Linked DNA regions of Homo sapiens. The protein of the gene in region 2 interacts with the protein of the main gene of each other region in a pairwise test. Each region holds a gene or a part of one and is shown on either strand. Other genes may lie near its edges. The genes, in order: GPR75-ASB3 and PPT1.

What was found.
Region 1: the proteins of PPT1 (region 2) and GPR75-ASB3 interact in binary tests that used the Homo sapiens proteins (3 or more experiments, as listed by UniProt).

What each region holds. Positions count from the first base shown.
Region 1 is NC_000002.12:53,704,247-53,719,838, reverse strand, and holds part of GPR75-ASB3 (GPR75-ASB3 protein), read left to right. Parts: intron 1-3,095; coding exon 3,096-3,273; intron 3,274-5,257; coding exon 5,258-5,455; intron 5,456-15,592. Other genes in the region: ASB3 (ankyrin repeat and SOCS box protein 3), read left to right, coding at 3,096-3,273, 5,258-5,455. UniProt on the Homo sapiens protein: Probable substrate-recognition component of a SCF-like ECS (Elongin-Cullin-SOCS-box protein) E3 ubiquitin-protein ligase complex which mediates the ubiquitination and subsequent proteasomal degradation of target proteins. Recognizes TNFRSF1B.
Region 2 is NC_000001.11:40,064,690-40,080,281, reverse strand, and holds the end of PPT1 (palmitoyl-protein thioesterase 1 isoform 1 precursor), read left to right. Parts: intron 1-1,623; coding exon 1,624-1,722; intron 1,723-3,368; coding exon 3,369-3,440; intron 3,441-6,098; coding exon 6,099-6,221; 3' UTR 6,222-7,570; downstream 7,571-15,592. Other genes in the region: CAP1 (adenylyl cyclase-associated protein 1), read right to left, coding at 8,749-8,832, 9,303-9,446, 9,770-9,852, 10,000-10,123, 10,408-10,592, 12,565-12,742, 13,962-14,067. UniProt on the Homo sapiens protein: Has thioesterase activity against fatty acid thioesters with 14 -18 carbons, including palmitoyl-CoA, S-palmitoyl-N-acetylcysteamine, and palmitoylated proteins. In contrast to PPT2, PPT1 can hydrolyze palmitoylated proteins and palmitoylcysteine.

The DNA.
Region 1 (15,592 bases), on a different chromosome or scaffold from region 2:
CCTCCCCCCTTGTAAGAGTTAAAGAAAGAGGAAAGAAACACAAAAGATGGGTTGGCAGTTAAAGACAGGTTTACTTTAGATAAAACCTGAGAAGGGTTTCTGGCTGATTTCGATCAGGAGCACTTTCTCTTACAGGCTAAGTACATGAGTATATATTGGTTTTAGGGTGAGGGGGCTTATCACAAGCTTGGAGTGTTTATGTGTGGGGGAGAAGTTTATGGTGAGGTTGGAATGTCTCTGGGTGAAGGGGGGATTATCTTGGGGCTGACGTCTTTCTAGAAGGAAGGGAGTTATCTCGGGGCTGGCATCTTCCCAGCCAGAGCAGGGCAGCTAGCATGTCTCTGGTCGCAGAGGAGTTTGGCATGTTCCTGGTCGGAGATGCTTTTTTTGTTTATGATCATGCTGATCTTAGCCATTTAGGCTGATGCGCTTTGGATTTAGGAAGTTTTTGATTAAGGTGAATTGGAAAATAACAGTGCTTGTGCAAGATGGTGATACTCCTGCTCTGTCATACTTCGGCCTCTCAAAGCTCTGGGCTTATAGGCGTGAGCCACTGTGCCTGGCTCTGTTGTCTGATTTAAAGTCTGTTTTATCTGATATAAGAATATTGACCCCTGGTTGGGCGTGGTGGCTCACGCCTGTAATCCCAGCACTTTGGGAGGCCGAGGTGGGTGGATCACGAGGTCAAGAGATCAAGACCATCCTGGCCAACATGGTGAAACCCCGTCTCTATCTGCTAAAAATACAAAAATCAGCTGGGCGTGGTAGTGCATGCCTGTAGTCCCAGCTACTCGGGAGGCTGAGGCAGGAGAATTGCTTGAACCCAGGAGGCAGAGGTTGCAGTAAGCCGAGATCGCACCATTGCACTCCAGCCTGGCGACACGGCGAGACTCAGTCTCAAAAATAAAATAAAATAAAATAAAAAACTAGTGACCCCTGACCTTTTTTGTTTTCCATTTGGTTGATAAATCTTTTTTCAACCCTTTACTTTGAGCCTATGGGTGTTGTTACATGTGAGACGTGTCTCTTGAAGGCAGCAGATGGATGGGTCTTTTTTCTTTCTTTTTTTTTTTTTAATCCAAATTGCAGCTGTGTGCCTTTTAGGCAGGATGTTTCGTAAAAGGCGAAAGATTTGTATGATCTGAAGAGACCCTTTACATTCAAGGTTAATATTGATATGTGAGGTTTTGATCCTATTATTAAGTTGGTAGATGGTTGCTTTGCAGTTTCTATTGTATGATTGTATTATGGGGTCTTTGGGCTATGTACTTCAGTGTGTTTTTGTGGTATCAGTGTTGTTCTTTCATTTCCATGTTTAAAAGTCCCTTAAGGATCTCTGCTAAGACTGGTCTAGTGGTAACAAATTGTCTTATCGCTTGCTTGTCTGTAAAATATTTTATTTCTCCTTCGTTTGTGAAGCTTAGTTTGGTGGAATATGAAATTCTTGGTTGTAGTGTCCTCTCTTTAAGAATGCTGAAAATAGACCCCCAATCTCTCTTGCCTTGTAAGGTTTCTGCTGAGAAGTCCACTGTTCCTTTTGTATGTGATCTGACGTTTTTCTCTAGCTGCCTGTAAGATTTTTTCTTTAGTGTTAACCTTCAACAGTCTGGTGACTGTATGCCATGGTGATATTCACGTTCACAGAGAGTTCTCTGTATTGCTTCTATCTGGATGTCTTCCTCTCTGGCAAGATTAGGGAAATTTTCTTAAATTATGTCCTCAAATATGTTTTCCAGGTCATTTACTTTTTCTCCTTCTCTCTCAGGAATACCAATAATTCATAGATTTGGTTGCTTTACATTATCAAATATTTCTCAAAGCCTTTTTCATTAAAAATTTTTTATTTTTATTTTTATCTGACTGGGTTAGTTTGAAAGACTGATCTTCAAGCTCCAAAATTCTTCCTTCTGCTTGGCCTAGTCTATTAATAAAACTTGCAGTTATATTTTGAAATTCCTTAAGTGAGTTTTTCAATTCCAGAAGCTCTGATTGATTCCTTTTTAAGATGTTTATCTTAAGATGCCTTCATTTCCTGAATTGCTTTAGAAGTTTCTTTGTGTTTATTTTCAACCTTGTCTGGATCTTGTTGAGCTTCCTTGCAATCCTTGCTTTGAATTCTTTATCTGTCATTTCTGAGTTTCCATTTGGGTCAGGAACCATTGCGGGAACACGACTGTGATCCTTCAGTGGTGTCACTATATTTAGATTTTTCACAAATCCAAAATTCTTGGGGTAGTTCCTTTTCATCTGGAGATGTTCACACTTCTAATTTTTGTAATTATTTTCATGCAGGTGGGATTTTTTTCTTTTTCTTTCTTTCACTATAATATTATTGTTTTTCCCTTTCACATTTATGATTTTAAATATCAACTCAGAAACCTGTTGAAAGAGACCCTTTTTCTCTGATTGTAGGCATTATTTATCATGCAGTGGTTATGAAGAAAGAGATGTAATAGAGAGTATAGTCAATATTAGTTTTAAGGCGTGGCTCCCATATATGTCATATCTACTGATAATTTTTCATAAATCTTAGCCTGAATCAATTAGTGGCATAATTTGGATTTTATCTTTTTCAGCAGTTATCAGAAATATTATCCATGTTTGATAGTTTGCATTTTTCTTTTTAAATGTTTACTTATTGGGCCCCAGAATGCTTGTTGGAGGAGGGATTGGAATGAAATGTATCCTTCATTGAATAGGATTTTTGTTTTAGCTTAAAAATGAATTCTAAGATATGAATCACTTGTTTTCTTGCTGACGTAGAGGCAAGACCTTTTTATTTTTGATAGAGACAGGGTCTCACTATGTTGCCCAGGCTGGTCTCAAACACGTGGCCTCAAGCAATCCTCTGGCCACAGCTTCCTAAATTGCTGGGATTCCAGGCATGAGCTACCCTGTCAGTTTAGCGAAGACAATTTAAATGATTACCAAGAAGTTAGCAAAGTAAATATGTTTATATAACAACATCCAACATTCAGTGAAGAGGGAAAAGCTTACCGTGCTACGAAACCCTTTTATGGTAGTTCCTTTGAAATTTGTGTTGATTTTTTTAAGTATTAGGGTTATCTGTTAAATGTTTTATTTTGTACCCTTAGGTGCAAATGTCAATTGTCAAGCCTTGGACAAAGCTACACCCTTGTTCATTGCTGCTCAAGAGGGACACACAAAATGTGTGGAGCTTTTGCTCTCCAGTGGGGCAGATCCTGATCTTTACTGTAATGAGGACAGTTGGCAGTTACCTATTCATGCAGCTGCACAAATGGGCCATACAAAGTAAGTGTTAAAAACAGAAAATAAACATGGTCTCTTAATCAAAAGCTAATAAAGAATAAATCTGGGCTAGACCCTTCACCTCTAGGCAAAGTCTTTGATATTCTCTTCCCTACCAATCTGCTGGGTGAACAGATCTACCCCTAATCTGTCCTTCATGCTGTCTTTTGCTCCTACTATTCCTGCACTTTCATATTGTGAGGCAGAATTGCTACAGACTGGGTAGGCTCAGGGACTTTCTCGGGGTGTTGACTCTTCCCATTGATTTCTCTAGTTATGGCTGTATCCGCCGCCTCCTCCTCCCTAGTTTTATCCCAGGCATCTTTAAGCATCAATCTGATGAGGCCATCCATGTTACCTCTCTGACCCCAGAAAGCTTTTGAGTTTGTGATGCCTGTTGGAGTGTGTGCTAAGTAGTCCTCCCTGTCTTAAACCCTTTGACTGAACTTTTCTTGATCTAACCTCAAATTGGAGAGAGAGTAAATGGGGGTTCCAGGAATCTTAGAAGCTAGTAACTTGGTTATACCTGTGAGAATATGGCTACCTATCATAAATTGGCAGTCAATGATTTTTAGAAATATATGTGAGAATATGGCTACCTATCATAAATTGGCAGTCAATAATTTTTAGAAATACATGTTTAGAATCTTTAGAGCCATAATTCTATAATAGCACTTTTTATAGCTGCTATTAGTATTATTTAATTTAAAAAGTAATAGTAAAATATTCATTACTTAATTTAGTTTGTTTACATAGTAGGAAAACAGATTCTGCAATTTGGTCATTATGCCACTAGGTGACACAGTACTTTACTATTTCATTAATGATATTTGTAAGCATGTTTATGTCTTGTGGGAGAGTATAATTTTTCCCACCTACTTAAAAAAATTAAACACATTTATTAAAGTTAAGAGACATTAGACTATTTTAACAAAATACTTAGATTTAAAAATTTGATATTTTCCCCAATTCTTGATCATTTATTTAAACATAAGTGTTAGATATTGTACTCTGAACTTTAAATGGTACCAAAACTCTCCTGGGCATTTGTTCTCAATTTTGAGAATTCTCATTGTCACTGATGATTTTCTTTATAGCCTACTTCAAAGGTAACCCCTTTTGTGAGTGTAAGTTCTACTTAAATGTTATCTTAGACATACATTACATGAGGAAAAGTCACAAAGAGAAATGTAATACTATGAAAATACTTCAGAGTAGCCCTGTCTGTCTTTTCCCAGAAAGAAGGAATTTCCTGGCTTTAACTATACAGTTTTATTTTTAATTTTAGAAGGGTAGAATAGTCCTTTTTTCTTTCCAGTTGACTGCTAGAGGTAAGTTTACAAATAACCTAAGAACTTTTGTTTTAATTATTTTCTTAGAACTTTCTCTACCTAGGAGCCAGCTTCTTTATAAATCTGCCTCCATATTTAATGAGCTCACTTTTTTTTCAGATAATAGAATATTTTAGCACAAATTATAATTTCTTCCTGATGAAAACATTAGTCTTAATTTCATGCCAGTTATCATCTTTAAAAATTTTTACTAATTGGAAAAGAAAAACTAGTTGGTACTTTAAGAAGGAAAATAGTGCATTTTCTTGATGCCAGTTTATACTTAGTAGAATGATGTTTTAAATAATTTATTAAACCCTAAAATATCTAACATAAAATTTGAATTTTGGGGGTTAAGGTGGTGCTAGTAAGGTAATAAAATTAAAAGAGCACCTTTTCTGTTTACATATAGGAACATTAATTTTGTTTCAAATGTATTTAAAGACCTTTTTATTAAGCAATAATAAGTGTAACATTCTGGAGTAAATATATAGCATGTAATAGTTTAATGTTGTTGGTAGAAGGTACACCCTAGACAGAAATATTTCTTTAAATGAATCAGTTGGTAATTCTGAAAAAAATTGTGCTATAGAAATGTTGCCTACATTTATGCACATATACAAACACTAAATTCTCCTGAATTTGTGTATTTATAGAATCTTGGACTTGTTAATACCACTTACTAACCGGGCCTGTGACACTGGGCTAAACAAAGTAAGCCCTGTTTACTCAGCAGTGTTTGGGGGACATGAAGATTGCCTAGAAATATTACTCCGGAATGGCTACAGCCCAGACGCCCAGGCGTGCCTTGTTTTTGGATTCAGTTCTCCTGTGTGCATGGCTTTCCAAAAGGAGTATGTATATTTGCTATGTTTTTATTTTTTATTCTTTTTTGCTGTATGGAGATGTGTTTTGAAGTGACTTTCTTTCACGATGAAACTTAGTATCTCTGTTAGTGCTAAATTGCTATCTTGGAACACAAATAGGAAAAAAACTATGATGTTTCAGTCAAGCTGAAGCAGAAATGAGGTGATAATATCACATTGTTTTCCTTCCTTCTTTGGATCTGGATTATATTTTTAGTGTAGCAATCTTAGGGAATACGTACAATTTAAGTAGACGCAGAAATTTGCTGATATTTTTGGTCTTCAAAACAATTCAAGAATTAAAAATGGGGCTTTATCAAGTAAGGCAGTGACTGCTTCAGGTCATTTACCGTTTCAAATTTATAAGATATAAGCCTAAAAATTAAACTTTAGTTTTATAGATATTATTGTGTTTTTAATGTATTTGGTGGATAGCATTAAAAAAAATTTTTTTTTTTTGAGACAGGGTCTCACTCTGTGGCCCGGGCTGGAGTGCAGTGGCACCATCTTGACTCATTGCAACTTCTGCATCCCAGGCTCAGGTGATCCTCCCACCTCAGCCTCCAGAGTAGCTGGGTCTACAGGTGTACACCACCACTCCCAGCTAATGTTTTTATTTTTAGTAGAGATGGGGTTTCTCCATGTTGCCCAGGCTGGTCTTGAACTCCTGGGCTCAAGCAGTTCCCTTGCCTCGGCCTCCCAAAATGCTGGGATGTCAGGCATGAGCCACGATGCCTGGCTTTATATTATTTTTGGATGTGAGTCTAAATAATTAAGTTTTTAAACGCCCCCAAATTAATTATTTTTCTAATCTGTCATAATTCTGTGAAATAGACTAAGTGAAGAATTACTGCTGCCTTGTTAGTGTCTGGCCAGTAACTTTGTCTATAACACTCTTACAGTTTTAAAACACTAAGAATAAAGCTGTGTGTAAGAACAGCCATATTGAGTAATATCTGGTCATCCAATAATGGAATAAGTTATGAAGATAGATGCTATTGTGTTTAATGACACAGAAGAGGTTGCAGGCATACCTCAAATTGTATTGGCCTTCTTGAATTCACTATTATGAATCTCTATTTAATTTGAGTAGTTATCAAGAAATTATTTACTAAGCTTTTCAGCCTTTACTATCTCTTAACATTTGCCATGTAAAATTAGTAGTTCACTATAATTTGTTTCAAGTTTAAGCTTACACGTTTTAGTAGAGATAGGGTTTCACCAGCCTGGTCTCGAACTCCTGGCCTCAAGTGATCTGTCTGCCTCCAGCCTCCAAAAGTGATGGGATTATAGGTGTGAGCCACCCCATCCGGCCTCTTAAACTTATACATTTTAGTTTGAATATTTGGGTTTTGGTTAATCTGAGTATCTGGGGCCCACTTTATGTATAACTTTCATGATTTCATAGGATTTTCTTGTGTACCCCGTTAAGTTTTGTCTTTTTAAACAGAAGAGCCCTAATTACTTTAGTTGACCTTCAGTGAGGTTGCACTGATAACTTTTAGTTGCCTTTCTCTATCCCAAATCTTAAGTCCGTTACAGAACTGAACATTTCTTATTAGACCAGAATATAATGATTTTGGATTGCGCGCGCGCGCGCGCCTGTGTGTGTGTGTGTGTGTGTGTTCAATATGATGATGGTCTTTTTTGGCCTTCATCTTATCTTTTGGATGAACAATGTTTTTGGTCCTTCTGGTCACAGCAGCTAAGCTCACGCCTCATCACCTTATAAGTGTAGTTTGAATTAAGCCATATAATGTAGTACCCCTGTTAACTCTGAAACACCTTAAAATTAATGATATTCCTTGGGAGCTGGGCAGTATGTTTCATGCCTTCTGTAGATTCGGATAAATGAAATTAGGTGGGAAAGATCTTAAATAGGTTTCTGGATTTTCCAAGATTAGTTGAAATTTTAGGGGGCAGACCCTTTTTTCTCCTTTGATTTCTACAAAATCAGTCAGTAACACTAATTGACCATTTTGTTATGTAGAGAGCACTAAATAGATCCTGTTAAACTTACTGAGGAAGCTGAAACATACACACGATCCTTTAGGAATTTAAAACCTAATGGGAAAAACAGTATTTAGTGGCATTTACTTCACTATCTTCTGCTGTCTTTGGCAAAGAAGCGTTTTTAATGTATTTTTTTTTTTTTGTATTTTTTTATAGAGACTCATGGAAGGGAAGGTTCCTATTTTTTTCTGCTGTGTCTGGGATAACTGCAAATAGGAGCTATTATCTCATTCTTGAATAGTGATATAAATGATTTTTTTTCTTTTCCTTTCACAAGTACTCCAAAGTTGTATTTTTAAGGAACTCCACAGTTTGGTTTGCTTTTTATGTCTCAGTTACTCTGTAGAATTTTTTTCTGTGTAAACTTCAGTGATGCTAAGAAGTTCTTAACATGCAGTGGAGTAATTCCACTACAGCCTCTCTCTTTCTCTCTAATGACTACAAAAAACTGTGGTCAAAATTCAAAAAGAAACTACCTGAGGACTCTCAAAGGAACAAAAGCAGATAGATTATGAAAGAGAGTGGTAACTTGGTGAAGTGACCCACATGAAAACGAATTTTCCCATTTCTTTTTCCTTTTTTTTTTTGAGACTGTCTCGCTGTGTTGCCCAGACTGGAGTACAGTGGCGCGATCTGGGCTTACTGCAACCTCCATCTCCCGAGTTCAAGTGATTCTCTTGTCTCAGCCACCCAAGTAGCTGGGATTGTAGGCATGTGCCACCATGCTCAGCTACTTTTTGTATTTTAAAAGAGATGGGATTTCACCATGTTGGCCAGGGTGGTCTCAAACTTCTGACCTCAAGTGATCTGCCTGCCTCGGACTCCCAAAGTGCTGGCATGAGTCACCGCGCCTGGCCTTCTTTTTCTTCTGCTGTGTTGCCCTGAGGGCCAACCCTGATCTGGAGCTGAGTAGCACCAGTGGCACCAGCAGCTAATATCAGTCAGTAACATTAATTGACCAGTTGTTTAATATAGAGAGCACTAAATAGATCCTGTTAAACTTACTGAGGAAGCTGAAACATAGACACAATAGAAAGCCTGTTTTTCTGGTCAGAGGAATCAGGTAAATGGAACCCTGTGGGCCAGAGAATGGTAGGGAATCTTGGAGAAGAGAGAGCTTGGAGAAGCGGATACCCTAATTGTGCATATGAATTTGCATATTCCTGACTTACCCCAAGCTTTAAATGCACAAGATAGACCCAAATTGTTTTTTATTTTGTTTTGTTTTTGAGACAGGATCTCATTCTGTTGCCCACACAGAGTGCAGTGATATGATCATGACTCACTGCAGCCTCGACTTCCCTGGGCTCAGGCAATTATCCTGCCTCAGCCTCTTGAGTAGCTGGGACTACGGTTGTGCGCCACCATGCCTGGAATTTTTTTTTTTTGTATTTTTTGTAGAGACAGGGTTTGCCGTGTTGCCTAGGCTGGTCTTGAACTCCGAGCTCAGGTGATCTCCCTGCCTTGGCCTCTCAAAGTGCTGGGATTACAGGCGTGAGCCACAGCACCCAGCCAACCCAAAATGTTGAAAGTAAGATTTGAACTATCATCAGAGTCTCAGGCTAGACCCTGAGTGGCACATTCATGGGTCCAAGCTTAAAGCAGGAAAGTCAAGGCTTTTGAGAACTGAGCTGACGTTGGAACCACTGTATAAGGTAAAACAGAAATTGCAGTTTGAACCTAACTAGGTTATATGCTTGCTGAAATAAACAAACCAAAAAGCTAGTGTTCTTCAAAGGATTATAACAAGACCCAGGACTCAGAATTTATACAGCATAACATTCACAATGTCCAGGAGACAACCTAAAATTATTTGACATATGAAGAACTGATAAAACATTACTAAATCTCATGGGAAAAAGCAATTAATAGATGCCAGTCCTGAGATGGTCCAGATATTAGAAATATCAGATAATTGAAAGCAGCTCTTATAATGGTGCTTCATGAGGCTAACACACTGGAAAAAATGAAAAGGTAGAAATTCTCAGCTGAGTAGTAGAAACTATAAAAAAGACGGAAAAATACAATAATCTGCAATGAAAAATTTACTACATGGACTCCATAGCCAAATGAAAGATATAGGAAAGAGTAAATTAACTTGAAAGTAAACCATTAGAAATTATTAACAAAGGGGAAGACATGCTGTCTGGCAGCTGGAGCGTGCAGACTGGCGTGGCACAGCCATGCAGCTTCTGGAGTTTCTGTTGGTTAGAGATTCAGGAGTAGCTTGGTGGGCAGTTCAGGCTTGGAGGTTTCTCTTATAGTTGCATTAAATATCAGATGAAGCTACAGTCATTAGCAAGCTTGACAGGAGCCAGGGGATCAACTTCCACAGAGGCTCACTGACATGGATCACTCATATGGCTGGGTGTTGGCAGGAAACCTCGGTTTCTCTCTATAAAAGCCTCCCCACAGGACGGCTGCAGTATCCTCATGGCATGGTAGCTGATTCCCTCAGAGGAAGAGGTCTAAGAGAGAACAAGACGGAAGTCACAGTGACCTGGTTCATTGAAATTATGGCTGTCACCTCCGCAGATCACATACACAAGCCCTGATTCAATATGGAAAGACTGTACAAAAGCACAAATAGGAGGAGGAAAGGATGATTGGGGGCCATCTTGGAGGCTAGCTGTCTCACACATTATCTCTGAAATTGCTGTTTTTTAATTTTGAAATTTTCAAACATATGTAAATGTAAAGAAATTGGTACAGTGAACTCCCATAGACCCATCATTCATATTCAGTAATGATCAAGGAAATGCCATCATTTTATTTTGTACAAATATCCCTGAGAAACATGCTCTTTCCACCTCCAGCCTTCATCTAAACATCTTATACTAACTTTCTTTAGATTTCAGTGTTCCAGGCTCTCTCCTTCCCTCCTCTTTCTGGTATGTTTATGGGGTAGAGGCAAGACCAATGCAAAGAAAGAAGGCCCTTTATGCTGGGCATCTAGGCTTTTTCAGACATCCTCTGAAACCTAGGCAGAGTCTCCCAAACCTCAACTCTTAAATTCTGTGCACCCACAGGGTTAACACCATGACCATGTGGAAGCCACCATTGTGACTTGTACCCTCTGAAACAGTGGCCTGAGCTGTACCTGGGCCCCTTTGAGCCATAGCAGGAGTGGCTAGGATGCAGGGACTAGTGTCCCAAGGCTGTGGAGGACAGTGGGGCACTGGGCCTGGCCCATGAAACCATTCAGTCCTCCTAGGCCTCTGGGCCTGTGATGGGTAAGGCTGCTGGGAAGGTCTCTGAAATGCCTTTGAGGCCTTCCACCACCCCCTGGTGGTTTTGGCTATTAGCACTTGCCTCCTTTTTACTTAATGCAAATTTCTGAAGTCTGCTTGAATTCCTTCCCTGAAAATAGGCTTTTCTTTTCTACCATTTGCCAGGCTGCAAATTTTCCAAACTTTTATACTCTGCTTCTCCTTTAAATGTAAGTTCCAACATTAGGTCCTGTCTTTGCTCATGCATATGAGCATAGGCTCTTACAAGCAGACAGGCTGCTTTGCTGCTTAGAAGTTTCTTCCACCAGGTACCCTAAATCATCACTCTCAAGTTCAAAGTTCTACAGGTCCCCAGAGCAGGGGCACAGTGCATTCAGGTTCTTTGCTAAGGCATAACAAAAGTGACCTTTGCTCACTTCCCAGTAAGTTCTGCTTTTCCATCTGAGACCTTGTCAGCCCAGCCTTTACTTTTATTCACTATCAGCACTTTGGTGACAACCATTTAACCAGTCTTCAGGGAGTTCCAAACTTTCCCTCATCTTTCTGTCTTCTTCAGAGCCCTCCAAACTCTTCCACTCTCTGCCATTACCAAGTTCCCAAGTTGCTTCCACATTTTTAGGTATCTTTATAGCAATGCCCCACTCTTCAGTGCCAATTTTCTGTATTAGTTCGTTCTTGCATTGCTATAAAGAAATACCTGAGACTGGGTAATTTATAAAGAAAAAGGTTTAATTGGCCCATAGTTCCACAGGTTGTACAGGAACCATGATGTTGGTGTCTGCTCAGCTTTTGGAGACACTTCAGGAAACATAATCATGGCAGAAGGCGAAGTGAGAGCAGGCTGCTTCTTACATGGCAGGAGCAGGAGCAAGAGAGTGAGTGTGGGAGGTGCCACACACTTTTAAACAACTAGCTCTCACAAGAACTCCCTACTGTGAGGACACTACCGAGGGGGATGGTGCTAAACCATTTATGAGAAACCCATCCCCATGATCCAGTCACCTCCCACCAAGCCCCACCTTCAACACTGGGGATTACAATTCATCATGAGATTTGGGTGGGGACACAGATCCAAACCACATCAGTAGATCTAGGGTGGGGACTGATATTCTGCATTTCTTTCTTTTTCTTTTCTTTTCTTTCTTTCTTTCTTTTTTTTTTTTTTTTGAGACAGAGTCTGACTCTATCACCCAGGCTGGAGGGCAGTGACACCATCTCGGCTCACTGCAACCACCACCTCCCGAGTTTATGCAATTCTCGTGCGTCAGCCTCCTGAATAGCTGGGATTACAGGTATGTGACACCATACCCGGCTAATTTTTGTATTTTTAGTAGAGATGGGGTTTCACCATGTTGGCCAAGCTGGTCTATAACTCGTAAGCTCAAGTGATCTGCCCCCCTTCACCTCCCAAAAGTGTTGGGATTACAGGCGTGAGCCACTGTGCCCGGCATACTCTGCATTTCTTTCTTTTTTTTTTTTTTTGAGACGGAGTCTCGCTGTGTCGCCCAGGCTGGAGTGCAGTGGTGCGATCTCAGCTCACTGCAAGCTCTGCCTCCTGGGTTCATGCCATTCTCCACCTCAGCCTCCCGAGTAGCTGGGACTACAGGTGCCCGCCATCACGCGCAGATAATTTTGTTTTTGTATTTTTAGTAGAGATGGGGTTTCACCATGTTAGCTAGGATGGTCTCCAACTCCTGAGCTCCAGTGATCTGCCCGCCTCAGCCTCCCAAAAGTGCTGGGATTACAGGCGTGAGCCACCACACCTGGCCCATACTCTGCATTTCTAACAAGCTAACAAGATGGTGCCAATGCTGCTGATCCACAGACCACACTAAGTAGCAAGAGTCTAGAGCTGTGCTGCCCAAATTGGTAGCCACCAGCCACATGTGGCTATTTAAATTAATGAAAATTAAGTAGCGTTATAAATTACTTCTTCAGTTTCCCTAGCCACCCTTCAAATGCTCAAGAGTCATGTGTGGCTAGCTACCCTACCGAATAGCACATCATCACAGAAAAGTCCGCTGCATGGCAGTGGTATAGAGAATTGACCCATAGTAACTCTCCTACAGCTGATTTTTAGACCAGAACAATTATTTATTCACAGCAAAAGAAGAGCTGGGCAGGGTAAACAGCAACAGGTTACTTATAGTATTTATTTCCTCTTTCTGGAACGGACAACCCAGTGTTCCTAAAGACAATATGGAAGGTTGTTTTGTTAGCTCAACACTTGAGCAAAAGAGGTTGGATATGTTTACCAGATTGTGAGAATGGATGAATTGCTTTTCTTCACACTAGAAGTATATTTCTCTTAGTAACTAGTATTGGGCATAAGAATCAGGGCTGAGAATGCTGGGGGAAGACTTCCTATTAAGAAACTGCGTTTTGGCTGGGTGCAGTGGCTCATGCCTATAATCCCAGCACCTTGGGAGGGCAAGGTGGGCGGATCACGAGGTCAGGAGATTGAGACCATCCTGGCTAACATGCTGAAACCCCGTCTCTCCTAAAAATACAAAAAATTAGTCAGGCGTGGCGGCACGTGCCTATAGTCCCAACTACTCAGGAGGCTGAAGCGGTAGAATGGCGTGAACCGGGGAGGCAGAGCTTGCAGTGAGCCAAGATCACGCCACTGCACTCCACTCCATCCTGGGCAACATAGCAGATTCAAAAAACAAAAAAAAAAAGAAGCTGCCTTTTGACTCCTTTTTAAAGACATAATATTTTGTCTGTTTACATACCTGCTTCTTCATTAGAATGTAAGCTCCTTGAGAGCAAGGATTTGCCCTTGATCTAACTCCTATTAGGCATTAAAAATATATTTGTGAATTAATGAATCAATAATTATATCAGATTAGCATATTTATTATATGTTAGTCTTCCTCAATGCCTTGTGGAGGGATAAGGATGGAGCATGATTCTTGGGCTTGGATGAGTCACAGATGTATAATGGCTGTGTGACTTTGGGTATTTCACTTCATTCTGCTAAATCTCATTCCATTATCTTTAAAATAGGGATAGTAATAACACCTAAGCTTGCTTTAGAAAATTATTTTGAGGATCAAATGAGCTAACAGTTGTGAAAATGCTTTGTAATTTGTAATTATTGTCTTAAAAAAACCCTAGTTTTTTGGGTGAGAGAGTCTTTGGTCTCAATGTCAATATATGTACAGATCACCTTGCCCGGATGTGTGCCTTGTACTTGCATTCTAGGATATTGCCTGTTTGGAACATCTACTCATATTTTCATACTGTCCCTCTCTGGGCAACTAGCTTTTGTAATTTACAAATATTTACAAATGTTTAACAAATTTAAAGGTTAAAAACAAATTTAAAGAAATTATCCACACAGAAGTACAAAAGAGAAAAAAGATGGAAGAAAAAAACAAGAGCGTCAGGGAACGAAGGGACAGTATCAACAGGTCTAACATTCATGTCATTAAAATCCAGAAGGAGAGGAGATTGGGCACAGAAAAAATATGTAAATTAATAATTGCCAAAAACTTCCTATTATTGGATAAAGATATAAATTTACAGATTTAAGAGGCCTGTTAAACCCAAACAGGATAAACTCACAGAAAGGCATGGTCAGAAAAATCAAAATGCTATAAAACAAATGTAAGGGAGACCTAGTCTCTCCCCGGATCAAAGAAGAAAAAGAAAAGTAAAGGTGAAGCAGTATGGTGTACAGTAGTCCTTGGTCACAGACATGAGTTAACAAACTTAGTTTTGTTTTTTTTGTGTGTTTTGTTTTTGCATCTCTTAGAAATTTTGCTCTTTGAAGTGGCCATGTGAGCATAATTACAATTTGTTTTTGTGCTATCGAAAGGGCATATGAGCGATTTTCTTTCATGTGAGACTTGTAATTGAACCAATATATTCTTAGGTAGATTTTCAGTAAGTAGTCATTGGAAAATGCTATATTTTTAGCCTTTAAAAATAAAGTCAAAACCTCAAAATATCTGTTTTAGGAGGGTGTATTCTCTTAGTCTTTTTATTTTTCATTCTAGAATTGGGCAACACCTTATTCTATAAAATAGAACATAGCAAACTTTAAGGTCAAAGAGACGTAGAATTTGATTGTGGGAATTTTGTCAAAAATATCAAGGTTCAAAAAACTTTACCAAAGTAGGATCACAGGTCAATGTGAAATAATAGTCACTTATCTCATCTAGAGTGATAATTAAATGGCTTCAAAAGGCAAATGCAGAAAGTTATATAGTTGTAGAAAAACCTGAGTTCTTTATTAGAGAGTTTTCATAAGTGATCAGATAGAATAAAGACAACATGAAGCACAGGGAATCATCTTGATAAAATGCAGAATCTTTGTTTTTTTAGACCAGTTACCTAATAGGTAAAGGAAAACCTTTCATTATTTCCAAGAAAACTAAATACCACATTTTTATTATCTAATGTCTGGCTGGTTGCTTATACATTTACTGTATATGTAATATGAGACTTATTCATTTTGAGTTTCTGTATGAAGCTTTTCCAATTAAGCAAGAAAATGATCATTTTCCCAGTAGGTTTTGCTTTGGTATGTCAAGAGGGTCATATAACCAGTGTCTGAGGGAAAAAAATTGAAGCTGAAAAATATGTTTTTGGTTATTTCTTTTGATAAGTAAGCATCTTAAAATTTGGATTGCCTACAATCACATGACTAAAATTAATTAAATTAATTACAGTCACCAATTATAAAGCAAGGACAATTGAATATAATCTTAATTTTAAAATAGCTATCATATGTTATTTTTTCCCTTTTTTTTTTTTTTTTTGAGACAGTCTCTCGCTCTGTGGCCCAGGCTGGAGTGCAGTGGCGTGATCTTGACTCACTGCAACCTCTGCCTTCTGGGTTGTGGCGTTTCTCATGCCTCAGCCTCCTGAGTAG
Region 2 (15,592 bases):
GAAGTTCTGTTTTTTTTGGGAGGCAGGGCCTTTGAGATTCAGTTCCCTTTAGGGAGGTTGAAATTCATTTGCCTTTCTTCCCTTAAGTTCTTTCCCTCTCCTAGTGTTGAAACACACAGGATAAGCTCGGCAGGTTGCTGACTGGGCGAGGTGGAAATTCACAGCTGCTGTCTTAATGAGGGAAGCTTTCCTGATGGATCAGTCTGGGGGTGGATTTTTCTCTAGAGATTTACCTAAAAGAGAGATACAGTAGGCACTGAGTATGTCCCAGACACAAACATGGTTTGGTAGGTTCTGGTAAACTAGATGGCTCAGTTTATATTTGACTCATCTGGAGAGTCTTTTGGTTTTTTGTTTTGAAACAGTTTGAAGGGAAAAACAAACCAAACAAAAAACAACACAGAATAGTATATAGCAGAACGACCCAGAATTTGCAGTTTCTTATTTTGTCTTGGCTTTCTCTGACTAGAAGCCTCTCACCTATGTGATGGACACCTATGGAGTGTGGTGTAAACTCATAGTTGTACCTGTATGCCATGCTCAGTGGCATGTCAGTCAGATAGGATGGTAAGAAAAGCCTATAGAAGGCCGGGCGTGGTGGCTCACGCCTGTAATCCCAGCACTTTGGGAGGCCGAGGTGGGCAGATCACTTGAGGTCAGGAGTTCGAGACCAGCCTGGCCAGCATAGTGAAACCCTGTCTCTACTAAAAATACAAAATTAGCTGGATGTGGTGGCGATCACCTGTAATCCCAGCTACTCTGGAGGCTGAGGCAGGAGAATCGCTTGAACCTGGGAGGCAGAGGTTACAGTGAGCTGAGATGGTGCCACTGCACTCTGGCCTCGGTGACAGAGCGAGACTCCATCTCAAAAAAAAAAAAAAAAAAAAAAGGAAAAGAAAAGGCTGTGTAAGCAATCCCGTGACTGGGTATATACCCAAAGGAAAACAAATTGTCCTGCCAAAAAGACACTTGCACTCGTGTTTATTGCAGCACTGTTCACCATAGCAAAGACATGAAATCAACCTAGGTGCCCATCAGCGGTAGACTGGATAGAGAAAATGTGGTACATATACACCATGGAATATTACACAGTCATAAAAAAGAATGAAATCCTGTTCTTTGCAGCAACATGGATGCAGCTGGAGGCCGTTATCCTAAGCAAATGAACACAGAAACAGAAGACCAAATATCACATGTTCTCACTTATAAGTGGGAGCTAAACATTGGGTACACGTGAATATAAAGATGGGAACAATAGACACTGGAGACTCCAAAAGCTGGGAGGGAGAGGCTAGGGCTGAAAAACTTCCTGTTGGGCACTGTGTTCACTATCTGGGTGAAAGGATCAACAGAACCCCAAACCTCAGCATCACACAATATACCCTTATAACAAAACTACACATGTACCCCCCTGAATCTAAAATAAAATATTTTGTTTTTTAGAAAAAAAGAAAAAAAAAAGCTGTACAGGTATATCCTGGTCAGGAAGCTGGAAAACAGCCCATACCCATGGGGAAGAAACACAGTGGCACAGGGTCAGGGAGACCAGAAAACAGGAAGGCTTTACTCCCTCTGCTGGTGTCTGATGGTAATGACCTTAGGTGTTGCTGGCCTTTCTTTCAGGGTATCAATGAGTCCTACAAGAAAAACCTGATGGCCCTGAAGAAGTTTGTGATGGTGAAATTCCTCAATGATTCCATTGTGGACCCTGTAGATTCGGAGGTGAGACACTACTTAGGCCACATGCCAGGAGAGTAAATGGCATTAAAATAGGGCTGCTGGCCGGGCACGGTGGCTCATGCCTGTAATCCCAGCACTCTGGGAGGCCAAGGCGGGTGGATCACCTGAGGTCAGGAGTTCAAGACCAGCCTGGCCAACTTGGTGAAACCCCATCGCTACTCAAAATACAAAAAGAAATTAGCCGGGTATGGTGACAGCCATCTGTAATCCCAGCTGCTTGGGAAGCTGAGGCAGGAGAATTACTTGAACCCAGGAGGCAGAGCTTGCAGTGAGCCAAGATCGTGCCACTGCACCCCAGCCTGGGTGACAGAGCGAGACTCTGTCTCAAAAAGAACATAAAATGAAATTGAAATGAAATGAAAAAATACAGCTGCCTGCTGGGGAAAAAACCTTCAGTCCCTTCCACCAACTTTTGTATAAAACAGTTCTTCACCTGAGGTCCATAAATGGGACACTGAAGATTGTAATCAATCCCCCAACCCCAAAATTCTATGCAAAATTATGTAATTACATTCTCTGGGGAAGGATCTATAATTTTAATCCATTTTCCAGAGATCAGAGACCCAAAAAATGTTCAGAATCACTAGCCCAAAATATATAAATTCCTAAGCTTGGCCTCCAAGGTCTGCCTTGATCTGGCTTCACCCCATTTTCCAGCCTAATCTGCCTTGTCTGCACGCTTCATACACTCTTGATCAAGCCATATTGTACTACTTGTGCTTTTTCTCTCGTATGCCTTGGTTCATATATTTCTGTCTCTAGAATGCCCTTCCTTGGCTTCTCCACCTGACAATTTCTATTCGTCTGTCAAGGCAAGGATGCCATCCCCATTCCAAGCAGAATGTGATCGCTTTTTTAGAATCATCAGCCTCTGTTAAAACACTCATCACGTTATGTCACACCACCAGGGATTGGCCGATTGTGGCCCACAGGCCCAGTCCATCCTGCTACCCGTTTTGGTGCTACCCACGAGTAACACCAAACACTAACATAAAAGAATGTTTTTAACATTTTTTAATGGTTGGGGGAAAGAATTGGACATATAAAGATTATGTAAAATTTATTTAGACATATCAAGTATTTGGACATATAAAGATTATGTAAAATTTAAATTTCAGTGTCCTTATTGGAACAGTTTTAGTTACTTTTTACATACTGTCTGTGGCTGCATTTGTTACAGTGGCAGCAATGAGTAGTTACAACCATATGGCCCTTAAAGCCTAAAATATTTTGTATCTGGCCTTTACAAAAACGTTTGCTGACCTCTGTACTCAACAGTGAATTGTTTCCGTGCCTTGCAAGACTGGGAGCTTTTTGGAAACAGATTATGTATTCATCCTTGAATGTCTAGAGCTCAGCACAGGAATTTTTCACATTTATTGCTTAATAATTTTAGGAAGCAGAAATTCTGGGGAAGTGGAAAGCGGCCTCTCAGAAAGATTAACTCATCCCTCGGGCTCCACCCTTAAGAAGAGATGACTCAGACGCACCCTATCCATTTTTCCTTCTTCCTACAGCTTTATGATGTTCACTTTGTTGGCAGTTTTAGCTTCTAACCAGTCTCAAATTATTTTGGCAGTATGTGCTGTGTGTCATATCTGAGCTTCTTTCCTTTGCTTCTTCTGCAGTGGTTTGGATTTTACAGAAGTGGCCAAGCCAAGGAAACCATTCCCTTACAGGAGACCTCCCTGTACACACAGGTAACTGGCAGGGAGTCTATCTTGGGAGGTTGGTGTTTTTTCAGCTCCCAGTTCCTGAAGCTGCTATGTTCTTTGGTGCTGGAGCCCTTTCCTTTACACCTCAGAGCACTAGGTACTCCTGAAACACCTGACTCATGTCCAATATGGGTGAAGCTTGTTAGGCTCTTGATTATGTGCTCTAGCTTATTAGGCACTGGGTTACAAAAATCCACTACATCCTGAAACCTTATGGTTTCCAAACAACAAGAGAAACCTCATGTCTGATTCCCTTCTTTTGATAAAAAGGTTTTAAAACTAGCTGCCTTGGCTGAGGTACAGTCTGCTACAAATCCAGGAAGCCTCCATGCATGATGAGGGGCATTCCTTTTTTTTTCTTTGAGACGGGGTCTCGCTCTGTCACCCAGGCTGGAGTGCAGTGGAGCAATCTTGGCTCACTGCAACCCCTGCCTCCCAGATTCAAGCAATTCTCCTGCCTCAGCCCCCTTAGTAGCTGGGATTACAGGTGTGTGCCATCACACCTGGCTAATTTTTGTATTTTTAGGAGAGATGGAGTTTCACCATGTTGGCCAGGCTGGTCTTGAACTCCTGACCTCAGGTGATCCACCCACCTCAGCCTCCCAAAGTGCTGGGATTACAGGCGTGAGCCAGTGCGCCTGGCCAAGGGACATTACTTTTAAACATTAATAGATGTGAAATCCTGTTTCTAAATTACGCACTGACAAGGGAGGCTCCTGCAGGAGGTTGAGTGGGACTAGAGTTTTGAATTTTGTTTAGCAGTAGGTCCTGTATCTTAAGCAGAAGTTGCAGTAATTTGCCACCTCCAGTTCTGGGGCCTTCTACACTTTAAGGATTTTTTTTTTTTTTTTTTTTTTTTTTTTTTTTTGAGACAGTCTTGCTTTGTCACCCAGGCTGGAGTGCAATGGTGTGATCTCAGCTCACTGCAGCCTCCACCTCCTGGGTTCAAGCGATTATCCTGCCTCAGCCTCACTAGTAGCTGGGATTACAGGCACACGCCACCATGCCTAATACTTTGTTTTGTTAGTAGAGACGGGGTTTCACCATGTTGGCCAGGCTGGTCTTCAACTCCTGACCTCAGGTGATCCACCTGCCTCAGCCTTCAAGAGTGCTGGGATTACAGGTGTGAGCCACCACGCCCAGCCCTAAGGATTTTATATTGGAGACAGACTCTCCAAAATGCTAAGTACTACATCTGAACCAATCACCGTCTACTAGAATTCCTCCATGTTATTTCAGAGGTCATTTGTCTCCTCTTGGCTTGGCTTTTCTTTTGCACTGGGTGCCTCAACTTGGGTGGTGAGGTAAAAAGGGAAGCTAGAATCTGATTTGAGAAAAAAAAAAAAAAAGGCTTGAGAAATTACAGCTAAGAACTTCCTTACTGTGAAAACTCAAAATGATGTTGGCCACGGCAGAAGCACCATTCTGGCACTGTCGTAACTGCTTATCTTCCCAACCAGAGGTTGTTCTCCAGCATCTAGGCTATGGGTAATGACATTTTCAACTCCAGAATATGAAAGTGTCCAGGGTTTGTTACCTAACGGTTGGATATGGTTTTTCTGTTTTGTTCTTTTGAGACAGTTTTGCTCATTGCCCAGGCTGGAGTGCAATGGCATGATCTCAGCTCACTGCAACCTCCGCCTCCCGGGTTCAAGCGAATTCTCCTGTCTCAGCCTCCCAAGTAGCTAGGATTACAGGTGCCCGCCACCATGCCCAGCTAATTTTTGTATTTTTAGTAGAGACAAAGTGTCATCATATTGGTCAGGCTGGTCTTGAACTCCTGACCACAGGTGATCCGCCTGCCTTGGCCATCCAAAGTGCTGGGATTATAGGCGTGAGCCACCGCGCCTGTCCTGGGTTGGATGTTTTTTAAGTTACCTAGCTAATGTTCTGTCTTTGGCTCAGTCCCACTTACCTATGGCATTCTGAGGCAGTGTCGTCTATGGCTTGCCCACCTATAGGTAGTCCTCTGACTCTGAGCTTTTCAAAAATCAGAATCTAGAACACTGTATAGAGCAATCTCAATTGCATATCTATTTTTAATACTTAGAAAAAACTGGCCGGGTGTGGTGGCTCACGCCTGTAATCCCAGCACTTTGGGAGGCCGAGGCACGTGGATCACCTGAGGTCAGGAGATCAAGACCATCCTAGCTAACACAGTGAAACCCCATCTCTACTAAAAATACAAGAAATTACCCAGGCATGGTGGCATGCGCCTGTAATTCCAGCTACTCATGAGGCAGAGGCAGGAGAATCGCTTGAGCCAGAGAAGTGGAGGTTGCAGTGAGCCGAGATCGCACCACTGCACTCCAGCCTAAGCAACCGAGCAAGACTCCGTCTTGAAAGAAAGAAAGAGAAAGAGAGACAGAGAGAGAGAGAGGAAGAAGAAGAAGAAGCGGGGGGGACAGGAGGAGGGGGAGGAGAGAAGAAAGAAAAGAAAGGAAGAAAGAGAAAGAAAGAAAAAGAAAAAAGAGAAAGAAAAAGAAGTAGGAGATATTCTTTTTGGCATTTTTGAAAATACACCTCAATTTTAATACTCAGGACAAACTGCATTTTGAAAATATATCTCAAGTTAACGTACTTACCATTTTACTCCAAAACTTCATTAAGCTTTTTAATTAATTATGGCCTTTCCTTCTGCAGGACCGCCTGGGGCTAAAGGAAATGGACAATGCAGGACAGCTAGTGTTTCTGGCTACAGAAGGGGACCATCTTCAGTTGTCTGAAGAATGGTTTTATGCCCACATCATACCATTCCTTGGATGAAACCCGTATAGTTCACAATAGAGCTCAGGGAGCCCCTAACTCTTCCAAACCACATGGGAGACAGTTTCCTTCATGCCCAAGCCTGAGCTCAGATCCAGCTTGCAACTAATCCTTCTATCATCTAACATGCCCTACTTGGAAAGATCTAAGATCTGAATCTTATCCTTTGCCATCTTCTGTTACCATATGGTGTTGAATGCAAGTTTAATTACCATGGAGATTGTTTTACAAACTTTTGATGTGGTCAAGTTCAGTTTTAGAAAAGGGAGTCTGTTCCAGATCAGTGCCAGAACTGTGCCCAGGCCCAAAGGAGACAACTAACTAAAGTAGTGAGATAGATTCTAAGGGCAAACATTTTTCCAAGTCTTGCCATATTTCAAGCAAAGAGGTGCCCAGGCCTGAGGTACTCACATAAATGCTTTGTTTTGCTGGTGATTTAACCAGTGCTTGGAAAAATCTTGCTTGGCTATTTCTGCATCATTTCTTAAGGCTGCCTTCCTCTCTCAGTACGTTGCCCTCTGTGCTATCATCTTATCATCAATTATTAGACAAATCCCACTGGCCTACAGTCTTGCTTCTGCAGCACCCACTTTGTCTCCTCAGGTAGTGATGAATTAGTTGCTGTCACAAAAGGAGGGAAGTAGCACCCAAATTAAGTTGCTTAAGAGAGGAAATGTACATCTTGTATAACTTAGGGAGCGAAGAAAATGTAGGCGCGAAAGTGAAAAGTGAGGCAGCTAGTTCTTCCTATTCCATTCTCGACCAACCTGCCCTTTCTTAATATGACTAGTGGTCTTGATGCTAGAGTCAACTTACTCTGTTGCTGGCTTTAGCAGAGAATAGGAGGAACCATATGAAAAAGATCAGGCTTTCTGACTTCCATCCCCAAAACACATTTACCAGCATACTCCAAACTGTTTCTGATGTGTTCCATGAGAAAAGGATTGTTTGCTCAAAAAGCTTGGAAAATACTACACACTCCCTTTCTCCTTCTGGAGATCAACCCACATTAGAGTGTCTAAGGACTCCTGAGAATTCCTGTTACAGTAAACAAAACTAACGTAATCTACCATTTCCTACACTATTTGAGCATGGAAATCATAGTCCCCACTCTGTGAAAACTTAACGCTTTTTGGAAGACATTTCTGTAGCATGTCAGTTTGGAGAAATGATGAGCTACGCCTTGATGAAAGAACCGTGTTGGTGCTGCTAAGTTTAGCCATTATGGTTTTTCCTTTCTCTCTCTTAAGCCTTATTCTTCAACTAAAAGATGAGGATTAAGAGCAAGAAGTTGGGGGGGATGTGAAAATAATTTTATGAGGTTGTCTAAAATAAAGAGTAGTTTCTTATCCTTGGTGTTTTCAGTATTTTTTGCATTTCTGTACAGCCAATATCACAGGTAAACAACTAAGCAAGTTTGGTATTAACTTTATTCTATTTTCTGTATAACTTTAAGTACATAAAGGTTTATTTCCACAGGCCTCAGGAAATGGGTAGAAATCACAGGACAATCTCTCTTCCCACCAAAAAAAAGTTGCATATTTTGGTAAGTGTTTGTCCTAGAGGGAAAAACAACTGAAATTTACATTAGCAGTGCTGTGCAAGATTCTTACATAATTCAAGACCTAAAACCAGCCTGCAGTGGAGGTTTCAGTCCTCTGTTCAGGTGCTTAGACAGAAGCCATAAGCTGATGAGCATGACAGGGAAAAGGAGGCAGTGAAGACAGGTGACAGGCACCTGGCAGGGAAGAAGGATTCAGGAATGCCAGACTCCTTGAAATCATGTGGGTTTTTTTTTTTTTTTTTTTCCTTTTAAAGTCATCTCTATAGGAAGGTGCTGGGCAGGGATCCCAGAGAAAGAAAGGGTCCAAGACTCCATTAACTGCCCTGGATGAAGGGCACTGCTACAGCAGCTAGTACCAGAGACTCTCCTATCTCACGGTTGAGGCAGACCCAGGATAGAATAGAGAATAAAAGGAATGCTTATAGGAAACAATTTTGTATGGAATGCTAGATGGCCAAGCCTCAGCCTTTGGTCCAGTGCAACCCTTGCCTCGCTTGTCAACAGTGAAAAATTAGTTTGGTTAGAAGAACCATCTGGAAACACACCAGCTTCTGCTACCTTCATGCTCATTGTTAAAAAAAGATTAACCAGTGTGAACATTCTGATCTGTTAATTCCAGGGACTGTTTTCTTTCCAATGGACTGTTTGTTGGTAGAATAACCCCCAAAAGCTCAAAGCTAAAATGCATCATCAGTCCTAGTCGGCAGTTCCTTAAGAATGGACTGGCGGCGTGGTTGAGCTGATATGGAAAAGCTGCACCTTCCTGCAGAAGATCAACTGACCTGCTATCCCACCCCAAATTTCAGCCTGAGGTATATTTCAGTGAAGGCAGGTAGCTGTGCTTCTCAGAGCAGAGAAGCAGTTTTAAGAGCAAAAAGGTAGAGGAAATCTAGAAAAGAACCGTCTTGATACAGATTTATCCCATGGTGTGAAGGGAGGGCAAAGAACCCAGTGGCACTTCGCTTATCCAGCAATTTCTGTCACTGTGGTGACCAACTTCTGCCCGTTCCATAGGGTCTTGAACTGCTCAGGAACTGGGAATTCATTCTGCAAATAAAGAAGAGACAGCAGGTTTAAATCTGAGCTAAAGAACAGCTGGGGCTAAATCTCACACATTTCTCCCAATGCTTGCTTCCACTTAACCCCAGGAGCACGGTACAATGTAGCAAGAGACAAACCCACAGAGCCATGCTATGTTCTAGTGTTCAGCGATCTTGGACAGACTATTAAGTCTATGGGGTGTAAATAACAGTACATATGGCTTTATAGCACCAGCCTGACAAGGTGCCATGGCTCATCCCCATTATTTTTTGCTACCTTGAGCTCCACTTAGGCAGAAAGCACCTACCTTTGGGGCTCCACTACATGGGACTACCTCATTTCTGTGTACTTTTGGTGTGCATTATTGGGTTTTTACCTGCTCAGTGCAGAATGTTCATAAAATAGCTTTCTTCAATGCCAGAAATCTTCAGTCCCTTCTGTTTTTAACATCATACTAAAGAGATCAAGAAACTTACAAAGTCACCGCCTTCTGTAGGAATGAGGACATTCATCTCGGAAGATTTGGCACTGACTATTTCACAATCCAGGGAATTCTTGCTCAGGTAAGCATGGCAGCCATCTGTTTTGTTGATGGATATGGTTGGCACTTTACCCATTACCTGCAGAGTAAACAAAGAGAACTGAGTCCCAGTGGTTGGGAAGGACAACAGTAAGTCGCAGGAAAAGGTTTCCTGTTTCACGTGACTCAGCAACTACATGAAAAGCTCACAGATGCGCAAGACACTGGATACTCGGGTGGGTTGGGATGGGTCCTGAAAAGAACTTGCTTGAAGAGCCAACCCTTCTTCTGCCACGTCCAAAGCAGCTCAGCTTACAGACTTTGTAGAATCAGATTCCCACCAAAGCAACATCTGTGGGTCTACCATGTCTCTTTGAATTAATTCCTCAGGGACAAAAAGAAGGAGCCAAAATATCGAGTTACCTGAACTTTGACATCCTTACTGTTGATTATCTCCACAATGCCCACCACGTCATCGAATACCAGGCCAAGTTTCTTACAGTTATCTAGGAGAAGAAAGGGAGTGTGTCAACGTGTAACTTTAAAGGAAAGTAATATACATTTAGGAATCTTTAAGGATAGGGTAGGTAAAATGGTATTAGCCTTCTCGGGCTCTGGGACGGGGCTTGCGTGGGACAGCGACAAAGACTCACCTACTGTAATGGAGTTAATTTTGCCCTTGATTTGCAATGTCGTGTTGACACACTTGTATATGTAAGCCACCTGTTTCAGCTCTGTGTCCTCAATCACCAGGTTGGAAACATTTTCCTGATTTTCCTGTTAGAGAGAGATCCCAGGATTCTCATCACAAAGCACACACCGAACAAAAAATAACCAGGCTATCCCAAACTTTTTGTTCTTGCAATTGAAGCCAGAACTCTGCCCTCATCTAGCTAAGCTCCATTTAACCTCCTGTTCCTACTCCTTTTCCCCGGGAGGCGGAGGTTGCGGTAAGCCGAAATCGCGCCACTGCACTCCAGCCTGGGCGACAAAGTGAAACTCCATCTCAAAAAAATAAAATAATAAAAATACCTGCCCCTGTCTAGGTATTTTTAACTCACCACTCTCCACTTCTTGCCCTCCAGTTCAAGTACAGCTGGCTCCTTCTTTGTGGCTCGTTTGGGGGATGGGCTGGTTTGGGGTTTAGGTGCAGAGAATGGTTTGGGGCCACTGCGTACTGGACCACTCTGAGCCTTCAGGGCAGGGTTCTTGTGAGTCTTCATGTCATCAGATACATGTTTCAGGGCTGTAAGAACAACAGCTACCTTGTTCCTGTCCTTCATACCAGACCTTTGAGCTGCTATCGTCATGTTAAACATCCTTAACAGAAAATTCAAAGCCAAAACCAGAGCCTTTGAGATGTTCTCTTGCAAGCAGTTTTGGAAAAGTACTTTTATCATTTCTCTTCTCCCCAAGATTAAATTATATGGTTCCATTAACAACAACATGGAATGTGTGTATATTGTGGGTGAGGATAAGGATATGTAAATCCTTATCCTCTATGTCTAGAAAGACATATCAAATGTATGTGCACAAATATATAATTTTTAAAGCAATAAAGAAAAATGAGTGGTAGTAAAGAAAATTTGGTAAAAGGAAAAGAAAAAAATACCCTCACTCCCCACAGCTAACCCTACTTCCCCCACCTCCTCAGTCAGTGTTGGCATTTGCAACTCTACAATATTGTTTTCTACATATATTTGGTTTTGTTGGTTATAATCATACAGATTGTTAACAAATTTAGTTCAACTATTGACACTTAAAAACTTTCTCATGTTAACCTGTAGTTTAATATCTTTCTAGGCCAGGCGCTGTGGCTCATGCCTGTAATCCCACACTCTGGGAGGCCAAGGCAGGCGGATCACCTGAAGTTAGGAGTTCAAAACCAGCCTGGCTACCATGGTGTATTTTTAGTCTCTACTAAAAGTACAAAAAAATTAGCCGGGTGTGGTGGCAGGTGCTGTAGTCCCAGCTATTTAGGAGGCTGAGGCAGGAGAACTGCTTGAACCTGGGAGGCAGAGATTGCAGTGAGCCAAGATCACGCCACTGCACTCCAGCCTGAGCAACAAAGTGAGACTCCCATCTCAAAAAAAATAAAATAAAATAAAAAATAAAAGTAAAAATATATTTCTTTTATGTTTTAAGGGAAAAATAATTCATCATCTCCCACAGCAGGCTGACACACGCCTCGCTTTGAACATGGCCAGATCTATGTTAACTGTATAACAAATACTGAATGGCCTTTTTATCTCCACCATTCCTTGTGGTTGTAATTTACATACTAGATTTTTTTTTTCTTAAACATTACATGGTTCACTGTAGAAAAACATGTAATGGTGGCACAACATTTCATCAAGAGGCCGGGCGTGGTGGCTCACACCTGTAATCCCAGCACTTTGGGAGGCCGAGGTGGGCAGATCACCTGAGGTCAGGAGTTTGAGACCAGGCTGACCAACATGGAGAAACCCCATCTCTACTAAAAATACAAAAAAAAAAAATTAGCCAGGCATGGTGACGCATGGCTGTAATCCCAGGTACTCGGGAGGCTGAGGCAGGAGAATTGCTTGAACCTGGGAGGTGGAGGTTGCGGTGAGCCGAGATCGCGCCATTGCACTCCAGGCTGGGAAACGAGCAAAACTCCGTCTCAAAAAAAATAAAAAAATAAAAAACATTTCATCAAGAGGACATGTGGTAGTTAGCCATTTCTCTTACAGTTGGATTTAGGTTGTTACACCATTTTTAGCTACTATGATCATAGATTCCTAGAAGTGGCTGGACAACTCAGACTTCCACCAGCTGTGTTAAGGGTATCTACTTTATACCAACATTAGGTCACTCTCATGCAAATTTTCCATGTAACCAGTATGCATCTTCTGAGGAAGTTAACTCCCTAACACAATGCCTTCCCAGAGGCCATGTGGTGCCACGGAAAAAGCTCTGGGGAAAACCGCCAGCTCTGTGCCTTGGCACAAGAGGGTCCTCTATATATGCTACCTAATATTAAGTCACTTTCCCATGGGGCAGATGGCTTCCTCCAACTGTGATCATCATTTTCAATTTCCATTTAAGCCAGCTTTGCCGTCCCTTAAAGGAACAGGACACACCAAACGAGTCTCCACCACACAAGCCAGGGTTGTAGTTTACAGACGGTTCTGGTTGGTGGGGTCTGGCCCACACAACTTGTTGTACCTACTGTTCGTGTCCAAGTGCTCACTCACCATGTGTAATGCTCTCCCCCTGATTAATCTGCGCGAACAGTGATGAGCGGGAAGCAGACTCATATGAGCATGAAATGGTAGAGACTGGGGGAGGAGGGGGGCATGGTGGAGGGGGAGGAGGACATGATCCGGCAGAGGGTCCAGATGGCAGTCCGCTCAGTTCTTTTGCCACAGGCCCCTGGAACAATAAGTGCAGGTAACATCATCATCCTCTCTGCTCCCCTCTGTACCATTCCCAGTAGTGCCCTACATGGGCCAGTGCACATGGGGTCCCCACCACAGCCTTTGAGGCAATGATTAATGTGTCCTACCCATACCCAACTTGGCTTTATGCCTTCTCACCCTTTCCCAAGGATCCAGCTCTCAGTTCTATTTCTTGACCATCACATTTTGCCTTTGAACTCACCTGATTCCAGCTCTAAAAACTATTTCCACAAATCTACTTGACATCTTCCTTAGTGTGTTACCAGTACCTCTGATTCAACAGATTCAAAACTGATTTCATCATTTCCTGCCGCTCCTCTCCCTGTACAATCATCCCCTTGTCCCTATTTCAGTGAAAGATGTTACTATCCAAGACTGACTATTCAATCTTCTTTGAGGATTCCAACTTCTTCGACCTTATCAAATCTCTATTATCTTGGTGCTATCTCCTGCAAATGTTTTTCTACTATCCCCCAAACACCATGACCACTTTCATAATCTGAGCATGAGTCCTTATCCCTAACCTATACACTGAGACTCTTTTAAAGACAAATTGAATCATTATCACTCCCTTGCTCAAATACCTCATCCCAAAGTCTCAGCCTACCTTCCTTTCCAGCCTTTTCTCCTAAAATTCTGATCATTTCCCCTTATTGAAGCCAGAGATGACCAATCTCTACATTTACTCTGCATGTATTTTGTTTAAGCTGTGCCTTTTGTAGTATCCCACTTCTCACTGCCCTATACTACTTTCAAGTCTCACAGAAGAGTATATACCTTCAAAGTACAATCTCTTCTAGTGAGAAGCACTCTTCTCTTCCTCATACTCTAGTCTGTATCTTTATTATAGCATTTGGCTTGGTGATTTGTATTGGGGTTTTGCATTCTTATTTTTAAGCTCCTTAAAGGCTGGGATAGTGTAACTCATTTGTGTGTGTCTCCTGCTCCAGCACCAATCACTGTCCCTAACATATTTATTGAAATTGAATACCACTGAATATTCCTTCTCCTCTGATCCTTGCTTCCTCTACTCTTTTTACCCTTTCTTTCTCCTCCTTTTCTTCCTCCCTTCCACTGAAAAAACTAGCATTCCCTCACAGACTTTGGTAGTGCTGAAGTCTAAGAAACCTGTGGACCCCATGCTGGAGAGAGAAAGTGGGAGGGAGGGAGGGAGGGAGGAAGGATTCACTAACCGTTTTGCTCCAGGCCAGTCCGGTGGTATGGAACTCCTTAATGTAAGCCTGCAGCTCTGTCCATATACTTAAATAAGCTTTGACCCAGTCTACATGCTTCTTATCCCTGGGAGGATTAAAGAAGAACTTGTCACAGGTGATCCGGGTACATAACAGTGGTGACTCCAGAACCCTTCTTTCCTATGGGCTCACATTCTCCTACCCGTGGTGTTTCTTAGGCTCCGCTCAATGGCAGCTTTTCTATCATCACCAGCTTCTATGTATATACAACCTAGTCTATTACCCTAATCAGACCAAACTCCACTAAGATAGAGACTCTGGATTCTATCTCTATCTCTCATAGCAATGTTTCTCAAACTGTTTTAAGTACCAAAACTTTTTTTTTTCTTTTGACCACTTGCTGCTTATTGAAACTTTTTTCAAAGTAGACCTTAAACACAATCTAATATGTAAAACTGATAAAAGCAGACATTCTGTGCATAAAACCATGGTAGAGAGGAGAGCTCTTAAGTATCACTGTGGAACTCTAAAGACTAAGAAACTTAACTGCCTTATGAGACAATGCCTTATGTCAAAATATGCCCACCCTGACCAAAAGCAAACTTAAAAACTTTCCCTTAGGGGGAAACAATCAGCCTTAAATTATAGAAATAGCATTGTGCCTACGGTTCAAGTCCCCTCTCTTCTTATGTATTAACTGGGAAGGTTATTTAGCCTAAGACCTAGTTTCCTCAACTGTAAAGTGATGGGATAATGGTGGGATATATCAAAACACTGTCATGCTTAATTCCATGTTGCTAGAAGGATAAGGAAGTGCCTGTTGTTCTGGGACACATTTCACTCACAGGAAGGTGTAGTTTTCCTTAAAAAGAGTAGTTAATAAATGTTTGTTGATTGATGAAGGATGGAAGAAAGGAAAGGCTTGTGTAGATATGCAACTTAATAAATTTTGCCTGCAATCATTCCAGCTCAAAACCAGCAATGGAGAAGTCAGAACTGGTAGACGTATGTGGTTAGACATGCAATGACTGCCCTACGTAATACCTGCATTGGCTAGGCAGCCTTACTCTCACTTTAACTGACTTCATGAAAAATTTCTATTAAGTCCTATTGAACCCTTTGCCATTGGGCCAGTAACAAATTCTCAACAAAGGAACAAAATCTTATATAAAGGGCATTAGTCCATGTTACTGCCAGCAAAACTTCCTAAACCCAGAAGGGTAAGGATCAGAAGACTAAAAGGGCCTCTACCAAAAAAGGAGAGAAAGCAGAAGTGGAAGCAGAAGTATTTCCTGCTTGCAAATGCAGCTGTGAGACAATATCTGTAAAGCTCTCCAGAAAGCAGCCCTGAGATAAAACCAGCACAGTGGCTAAGGGCAGCCCTCAGTAACTCCAAAGTGCTACTCCAGCAAGTAACCAAATGGGTTTATCCTTTACCCCTTGAGAAAAAGCTGAACTTGGCTGGGCACAGTGGCTCACACCTGTAATCCCAGCACTTTGGGGAGACCAAGGCAGGAGAATCATTAGAGACCAGCCTGGGAAACAGTGAGACCTCATCTCTACGAAAAAATTAGAAAATTAGCCAGGCATGGTGGAGCGTGCCTGAAGTCCCAGCTACTTGGAGGACTGAG